2 separate regions of the Homo sapiens genome follow, and region 1 is linked to region 2. The links come from fine-mapping of genetic effects on gene expression. A gene starts in region 2. The other region holds a variant in brackets. All regions are shown on one strand. Distances are between the middles of the regions.

Region 1 (4,404 bases), 130 kb before region 2:
TAACAAATAGACTGGTTGTAAAACAAGCTCAGAAACAAAAAGATGTAAATGGTGTTCTGGAAGTAGTAAAGAAGCAATTTTGGCCTGTGTAGAAGTTTCAGCAAGTTATCCAGAAGGTCTAGCTAAGATGATTGGTAAAAGTGGCTACACTAAACAACAGATTTCAATGTAGATGAAACATCCTTCTACTGGAAACAGGCGACATCTAGAACTTTCATAGCTAAAGAAGAGAAGTCAATGCCTGGCTTCAAAGCTTAAGAGGACAAACTAACTCTCTTGTTAGGGACAAATGCAGCTGGTGACTTTAAGTTTTAGCAAAATATTACTGCTCATTGACAATGCAAAACTAGTCACCCAAGAGTGCTGATGGATATTAATGTTTTCATAACTGCTAATATAACATCTGTTTTTCAGCCCGTGAATCAAAGAGTAGTTTCAACCTTCAAGCCTTATTTTTTAAGCCATGTATTTTTGAGGCTATGGCTGCCAGAGATAATGATTCATCTAATAGATCTGGGCAAAGAATTGAAACCTTGTGAACAGCATTCATTGTTCTGTAGTAGATGTCCTTAAAAACATTTGTGATTCATGGGAGGAGGTCAAAATATCCACATTAACAGGAGTTCGGAAGAAGTTGATTCCAACTGTCATAGATGACTTTGAGGGGTTCAAGACTTCAATAGAGAAAGTAAATGCAGATATGGTAGAAATAGCAAGAGAATTAGAATTAGAAGTGGAGCCTGAAGATGTGACTGAAATGCTGAAATCTCAGGATAAAACTGGAATGGATGATGAGTTGCTTCTCAGGCATGAGCAAAGAAAGTGGTTTCTTGAAATGATTTTACTTTGAGTAAAGATGCTGTGAACATTGCTGAAATGACAAGAAAAAATTTAGGATATTACACAAAATTAGTTGTTAAAGCAATGGAAGGATTTGAGAGGATTGCCTCTAATTTTAAAAGAAGTTCTACTGTGGATAAAATGCTTTCAAACAGTATCACATGCTACAGAGGAATCTTTTATGAAAGAAAGAGTTAATCTATGTGGCAAACTTCATTGTTGCCTCATTTTAAAAATTACTACAGCCACCCAACCTTCAGCAACCACCACTCTGATCAGTCAGCATCCACTAACGTTGAAGCAAGGCCCTCCACCAGCAAAAAAGTTTACAACACCCTGAAGGCTCAGATGATTGTTAGCATTTTTCAGCAAAAAATTCTTTTTAAATTAAAATGTATACATTGTTATTTTAGACATAAGACTATTGTACACATAATAGACTACAGTATAGTGTAAACATAACTTTTATATGCTGGGAAACCAAACAAAATTGTATGACTCACTGTATTGTGATACTTGCTTTACTGCAGTGGAACCAAACCCACAGTATCTCTGAGGTATGCCTGCAATAAATTATGCAATCATTATCACTATCTAATTCTAGAATATTTTCATCATTGCCAAAAGAAATATTCTACCCATTAGCAGTAACTCTTTATTCCCCATCACTAGCCTCTGGCAGCCACTATTCTGCATTCTGCTTTCTGTCTCTAGGAATTTGCCTATTCTGGACATTTCACATCTGTCTTGTATATAATTCATATGGATGATATGCAGCTTTTTGTATTGATCTTGTTTGCCTTAGTATAATGTTTTTAAAATTAATCCATATGATAACAGGAGTTAGTATTTCATTTCTCTTCATGGCTCAATAAAATTCTGTTGTATGGATATGCCACATTTTGTTTATCCATTCATCAATTTCTGGACATTTGGGTTTTCCATTGTTTGGCTATGCAAGTTTTTATACAATTGTCTTGATATGTTCCTAGTAGTCAAATTGTTGG[A/G]TTATATGGTCACTCTGTTAAACTTTTTGAGAAACTGCAAACTGTTTCTAAAGAGGCTGCACCATTTGCGTTTCTATCAGCAGTTAAGGCTCTGATTTTTCTACTTTCTCACCAAAGCTTGTTATCATCTAACTTTTTATTCTAGCTATCTCTGTGGGTGTGAAGTAGTATCTCATAGTGATACTGATTGGCATTTCCTTGATGACTAATGATGTCAAGCATCTTTTCATTATTGGCTGTTATTATCAGCCATTTTATATATCTTCTTTTGGAGAATTGTTTATTCAAATCTTTCACCCACTTTTAAATTGGATTATTTGTCTTTTCATTTTTATAGTTGTAAGAGTTCTTTATATGCTCTGGATCTTAGACCTTTATCAGATATTATATTTTTTCCTCCCATCATTTGTATTGTTTTTTATTTTCTTGATAGTGTCCTTTGAAGGACATTTTTAACTTTTATGAAGTCCAATTCATTTACTCTTGTTGCCCATGTTTTTGTTTTCATATCAAAGAAACTATTGCTTAATCCAAGACAACAAAGATTTACATCTATGTTTTATTCTAAGAGCTTTATAGTTTCAGTCTCACATGTTGGTCTTTGATTCATATTGAGTTAATTTATGTACGTGGTGTGAGGTAGGGGTCCAACTTCATTCTTTTTCATGTGGCTATACAGTTGTTCCTGCATCTGATATTGAAAATTATATTTTCCCTCATTGAATGTCTGGACACCCTTGTTGAAAATAAATTGAACTCAAATGTATGGGTTTATTTCTGACCTCTCCATGGTAATCCATTGATATATAATCCCTATGCCAGGACCAGACAGTCTCAATTACTGTAGCTTGGTGTTTAGTTTTGAAATCAGTTTTGTCTTTCAATTATGTTTTTATTTTCTTAAAATCATTTATACTGATGAAATTGCTGATATTTATTTTATGGATTGACTACCTTTTTTTAGGGATTAGTATATTAAATAGCTTTATAATTTAAATGCAATCTAAATCTCTCTGGTGATGTCATATCTCTGAGCAATTACTAAACCATGTGACTCCATATACTAGTAAGTATGGTCCAGTGAGTGGCATGGACAGAAGTAATGACAGACTGTAGAGAAGTGGTGGGGAGCTTAAGAGTATTCTCTTCCTTATAGCTCTCAAGATCCGTTTTCATTCTCCCATTAGATTTTGATGATATGCTCATCATTTGGTAAGAGCACATGATAATATATTAAGTATAATGTTATTGATTTATTTAGAGACAGAGTCTCACTCCATCACCCAGGCTGGAGTGCACTGGTGTGTTCTTAGCTCATTGAAATCTCCACCTCCCAGGTTCAAGCAATTCTTGTGCTTCTGCCTACCAAGTAGCTAGGATTACAGGCATGTGCCACCACACCCAGCTAATTTTTGTATTTTTAGTAGAGATGGGTTTTTGCCATGTTGGCCAGGCTGTTCTCAAACTCCTGACCTCAAGTGATCTGCCTGCTTCAGCCTCTCGAAGTGCTGGGATTACAGGCATGAGTCACTGTGCTTGGCCTAAGTATAACTCTGTAATTGTCCTATCTGTTTAAAACATCTTTCCATTCATAATTCCCTTATTTTCTTACTTTTGATATATAATTTTATTTTTATGTAGTGACATCTATATAATAAAATTTCAGATGGTTCAATTTGGGCACCAAGGTGGGAGGGATCAGGGACTGGTGTGAAATTGATACAGAAATAGTTTTCCTATAAAGCCACAAATAAGTGATACTTGGAGAAGAAAGAACTTGTCTTTCCCCCTTGAATAATCTTGGCATCCTCATCAAACATCACTTCACCAGAGATGTATGGGTTTATTTCTGGACTCTCCAATTCCATTTTGTTCATCTGTATATCTGTCCTGGGTCAGTACCAAACTGTCTTTATTACTCTTTCTTTGGATAAGTTTGAAATCGGGAAATATGAATCATTTTACTTTTTTTTTTTTTGAGATTGTTTTGGTTCATGCATAAACTAATTTGGGACCATCATTTTCGTAATAATGTTTAAAAATGCTTGTGGTCCATGAACATGGGATTTTTGTTCCATTTATTTGTATCTTTTAAATTTTCTTTTAACAATATTTTATAGTTTTCAGAATATAGGTTTTACCCTTCTTTTGTTAAATTTATTCCTAAGTATCTTATGTCTCTTTAATGCTATTGCAAATGGAATTTTTTCTTTATTTTAAAATTATCTATGATTTCTAACTCTCCACTCCTTGTATACTTACCTAAGTATGTGTCTTATTTCCCCGTACTAGTCCATATGTATATTAAGGACAGATTTTATGTTTGAGTCATCTTTGTATCTCACAGACTATTAGCCCAGCATCTTACACGTAGTAGTTTTTCAAATGTTTAATTAATAATTTATGGATTGTTAATCAACACCATAAATTAATGAAAACCCAGAGCTAATTTTGAATAATCTAGGAAGCCTGTTTTTTTAACATATGTTCTTTGGAAATTTGTTATGAATTAAATATCAGGTACTTTTTGATATCAATATGAACTAGTTTTGGATGT
Region 2 (4,404 bases):
GAATGGATGAATTAATGAACGGTAACCTTAAGACTCAGAGTTTGATATTTGCAAGGTGTGATCTCTTAGGGGAGGGAGAGGGGAGAAGGAGGAAGGAGAGAAAGGCACCATCCTAACTTCAACAGAAAATTCTCAAGAGCTTTTATTAGATTGAACTGCTTGAAATTACCAGAATTCAACTGTTTTGCCCTACATAATTTAGGGCAACTTCACATATTTCAACTCAGTTTATCACAATTAAACACATTATAGTTAATGATAGCATCTTATTTTGTAAAAAAAAAAAATCTAAAAGTAAAGGGCAAGCACTATTAACATCATAAGCTGGGCCCTATAACATCATAAGCTGGACCCATAAAATATGCCTATAAATACAGAATCCTACCTTTGTCCACCTATGCAACTGAGTGTCATAATAGGTTTCCATTATATTTTAAAAACATTCGTAGTAAGGTTTCAATAGTAATATCTTAGCACTGTTAAAATGTAAGGTCCACTAAAATGTAGGTTCGATGAGAGTAAAGCTTTATCATTTTTATTCTTTGCTGCAACCTAGAACCTAAAAAGATGCCCATAATAGACATTTATTTAACAACAAATATTTATTGAGTACCTACTTTGTGTCAGACATTGTTTTAGGTGCCTAGGATACATAAGTGAAAAATCAGATGATGATCTTTGTCTTAATAACAAATGTTGAATAAAATAATAAAAATCTGCAAACTGTTCAAAACACTTTATAGATAATATGTAATAAAACCTTATCATATTATATATGATAATCTCATGAGAATTCCATAACCCATGCTTTAATCCCACCAAGATACAAAAGTATCTTGAAAGTAAAATATACTGTACTATCATTACAATTCCTTATTTCATGGAAACTTGAATTATCTTCCAAAAACACATAAGCAAAAAACAAGACCTTCATTAGGCCATAGCATACTGCAGCTGTCCACAAACGGAAAATTATCAGAATCATTTATCAGAGCAAAAGCACGAAATAAACTTCTACTCATGTTATTACATCTGCTTTTTGGTGAATAGGTGACTGAAAAAGTTACCGGCTACCACTTTGCACTTCATCACACAATGTAGAATATTTTACTCCCTGGCATGCAACAATACACAAGACTCAAAAGCTTCTGCTCATTCTTAATTCCAACTGAATCCGTGTAAACTAGGAGACGGGGGAAAGGAGCTAAATCAAGACAATAGGATCTTTCAATTCTGAAGGTTTGTTCTTCATCATAACAAATTAAAAAATCTTGAAACTGTTGTTGCCAATGCTAGTTATTGTGGTTTTTGTCCTTCCTTTGTTTTTAGGTGAATGCTTTCATTACACAGGATAAAATGGGTAAACAGAATAGAGAAAAAGTGAAAGAACTGGGAACAAAGCAAAATCTGGAGTCATGGTTACAGTACAAAGATAAACCCAAAGATAAGGAACCAATACAGGCTCTTCCTCACACAGCGGCCGTGAATAAGTCATCAAATCCTCCGGGTAATCTATTGTACCGGCTCTAAAGCTGGCCAGTGACACTTCCTTAGGAGATGCTCTGACATCCCTCCGACAGAAGATGCTGTCGAAATGTAAAAAGCCGGTTACCTAGGGAAATCGGCCAAGGAATGTCAGGAGCTCGAGGCTGGAGACACACCCCGGGGCTGCAGCACAAAGTGGCCTGTTGGTGTTAAGGCCGTGGACAATAATGGAGAGAGTCCAGTACAAGGAAAACAAAATCTGGCCAGAGACTGGGATCACTAAAAGGGCACTCAGGAGTCAAGCAAGATCAGAAAATGGTAGGAAGAGACGTGCAGGCGTCTTGCCAGGGGCAGGATCTGGCTCCGGGCGGGAAAGCCCAGTTGAAGACCGTCTGAGGCGGGGCAGCCTGGTAGCGTTAGCTCCACCGCATCGGGGACTGTCCGGTTCCCTTCGGCCCCAGCCTCCGGAGGCGCGGCGGGACGCGGCGAGGTCCGCCGCACCGAACCAGCCCTCGCCTTCCTGCTACTGGTGTCCAGGGTCCCCAGCTGTTTCGGGCCCGCTCTAGCCGTCCTGCCCTCATCCCTTCATCGCCTCACCTTCCAGTCCCTCCATCGCGCCACCTCCTCGAGCTCAGCGAGACTCCTTCAGCAGCGCCCGCCACCGCCCAGCTCTGGCTGTAGCAACCCAGCCGCACCTCCCACCCGCTAACATTCCGAGCTCCCATTGGTTCCGCAACTGCGGGGGCGGGGATCCGTGGGGGCGGGGCCGCGGCGGAGGCGAGGTTCCTGCGGTCTCCTCCTGGCTGCCACCCCTGTCCGTCTCTCCGGGTTACTCTCCAGGGAGCCGGGAGCCGCTTCAGGTTGCAATCTGCGATGCAACGGCGCCTTTGTTTGACTCCAGCCTTGTTTTGCCTCATACCTTATCCTCCTATTTAGAGTACCTCAGCACCTCATGGGCTCCGCTTCACCAGTTCCTCAATCAGTCAATGCCTCTGACTTCTAGCCGCCATCCCTCCCAGTGGATACTTTAAGCAGGCAAGCAAACCAAACAAACGCCCAGCACGCTTGCATGCAGCAATCTCCGTTTTCCGGTCTTTGGTCGCATGACTTGACCTCAGCGTATCCCCTACACTTGATCTTCACACACAGCTTCATAGGTTAAGACACTTTTTTTCCAGAGAAATCATACTTTCTATCTGCGATTGTGGAACTGCGATTGCTCTAAGCCCTTGAAAACAGTTTCCTCACCATGAAAGCTTGGGCCAAAAATTAGAAGTGAAACCCAGCCCTCCCTCTGTCTTCTACTCTTGGCCTACCTTGGCCCTATACTTTATCATCCATAAACCAAAACAGTCGCCTGGCCTGACAATGTTTGATCGGGGAAGTTTGAGTTGGGGAATTAACCTACAACCTGACAGAATGAGGCCCGCCCGTCTCTAACAGAGTTCAAAACCTCCTGAAGATGAAAGTAACTTCAAAACTAACTCAGACCATTTTAACGGTTTTGCTTACAATTACCAGAACTACATTTCTTTGAAAATTTGATTTAGCAATCGTAAACAAGCTGTACTGTTTGCTGACTATAGCGTATCTACTGGCAAGTTACCAGTATTAATGTGTTGTCCATAACAAACCTCGGATTAATGTTATTGTTAATCTGTTTAATTGAAGAGTTTAACTTCATATCTAACTTCATCTACTATGAAATCAGTTACCTTCAGGAAGCAGGATTCCTCCTACTCTCCACTCACATGAAGGTATGTTTAAACAAGCAAACACTTGAGGGGGCATCATCTCTTACTGAGAAGGTGCTCCAAGTGCATTTGAATGTGGTAGAGTCCATCTGTTGTGTGGAGCCATGTAAAGACCACTTCAACCATGCCTCAATGACTCCCTCCGCCCTTCCCTGGTTCCCCTGGCTCTTCTGCTTCTCTGAGATCCTGGGCCTCCTTGGCCAACCCATAGCCTTGCAGGCAATAAGCTACTCTAGACTGGGTGCTGCGGAAAGGTCCTTTTTCTTCCTTAGTGCTACTAAGGCAAAGGTAGAATTTTTGGTTGGGAGGGAAGGCCTTTTAAAAGAGCATTAAGGAGAAAAAAAAGCACACAGAAGAAAATACAAAAATAAGGAAGCCATTATTTTACAAATTACAAGTTCTTTCACTGAAGGCAAGACGAATATTGAGTTGGCTGATACCTTATTCGACATAAAATCTACAGTAACATTAAAAATAATAAAAATAGCATTAAAGAATAAATCATGTGAGGCATGTTTTAGGCCATTTTCATATATTCACAAATCTTCAAAAGAAATCTACAAAGTAGATACTACAATCTTCATTTATCAGAATTAAAATGTTCATTTTCTAGATGTCTCAGAGCAATTAATATTTTGTCAATATTTGTATTATTAGTGGATGGTAGAGCTTGGCTACACTCTTGTCTGTTAAATTCTAAAGCCTATGGTGATTTGATTGGGCTCCTCACTCCCTTTCCTTGCCTTGCCTTTTATTATAGCTGCCTCAAGTGTAAACCCAAGCGTTCAGACATGTTGTTTAACATATATTTGAGTAGGCATTTCTATTGTGAATCTTAATTCTCTAAAACATGATTGCTAGTCTTCCCTACAGGTATCTTCATAACTTTTATGCTTTTGGTCTCTTCATAACTTTTACGCTACAGCTACCCTGGCTCCTGCAGCTTTTCCCTGATTCTGACCCCTGAGTAAAGAGGACTTCTTCCTATCTGCCTTCAATAAGTTCTTTCCTCTGCCGCCTACATACCTAGCCTGAGAGTCTTGTCTTGGCACTGTATCATGACATTACTTCCTCTCCAGTCTAATCCATTTTTCGGCATGCATTCATTCAACAAATGTTTGTTGAGTACCTTCTATGCTTCAAGTCCATTTTATCACTAGCCAGT

Evidence for each region. PIP is the estimated chance that this variant, and not a neighbour inherited with it, causes the effect. A credible set is the group of variants that fine-mapping cannot tell apart.
Region 1: its variant is the best candidate, but not a certain one, in a credible set for the expression of ZC2HC1A in whole blood (TOPMed, PIP 0.80).

The regions. Positions count from the first base shown.
Region 1 is chr8:78,790,343-78,794,746 of GRCh38, reverse strand. All of the region lies in intron 2 of IL7 (interleukin 7), which reads left to right. Among named protein-coding and RNA genes, the nearest start is that of MITA1, 12 kb to the left of the region's middle. RefSeq lists a silencer at 3,426-3,626. The variant A/G (reference allele first, on the strand shown) is at 1,848.
Region 2 is chr8:78,663,843-78,668,246 of GRCh38, reverse strand. ZC2HC1A (zinc finger C2HC-type containing 1A) reads right to left here and starts at 2,158. Exons shown (of 9, transcript NM_016010.3): 1 at 2,083-2,158. The coding sequence starts at 2,098. It overlaps LOC105375911 (a long non-coding RNA gene), which reads left to right and starts at 2,268. Exons shown (of 4, transcript XR_007060972.1): 1 at 2,268-3,242. RefSeq lists enhancers at 2,005-2,054, 2,019-2,526, 2,527-3,035 and a silencer at 2,125-2,344.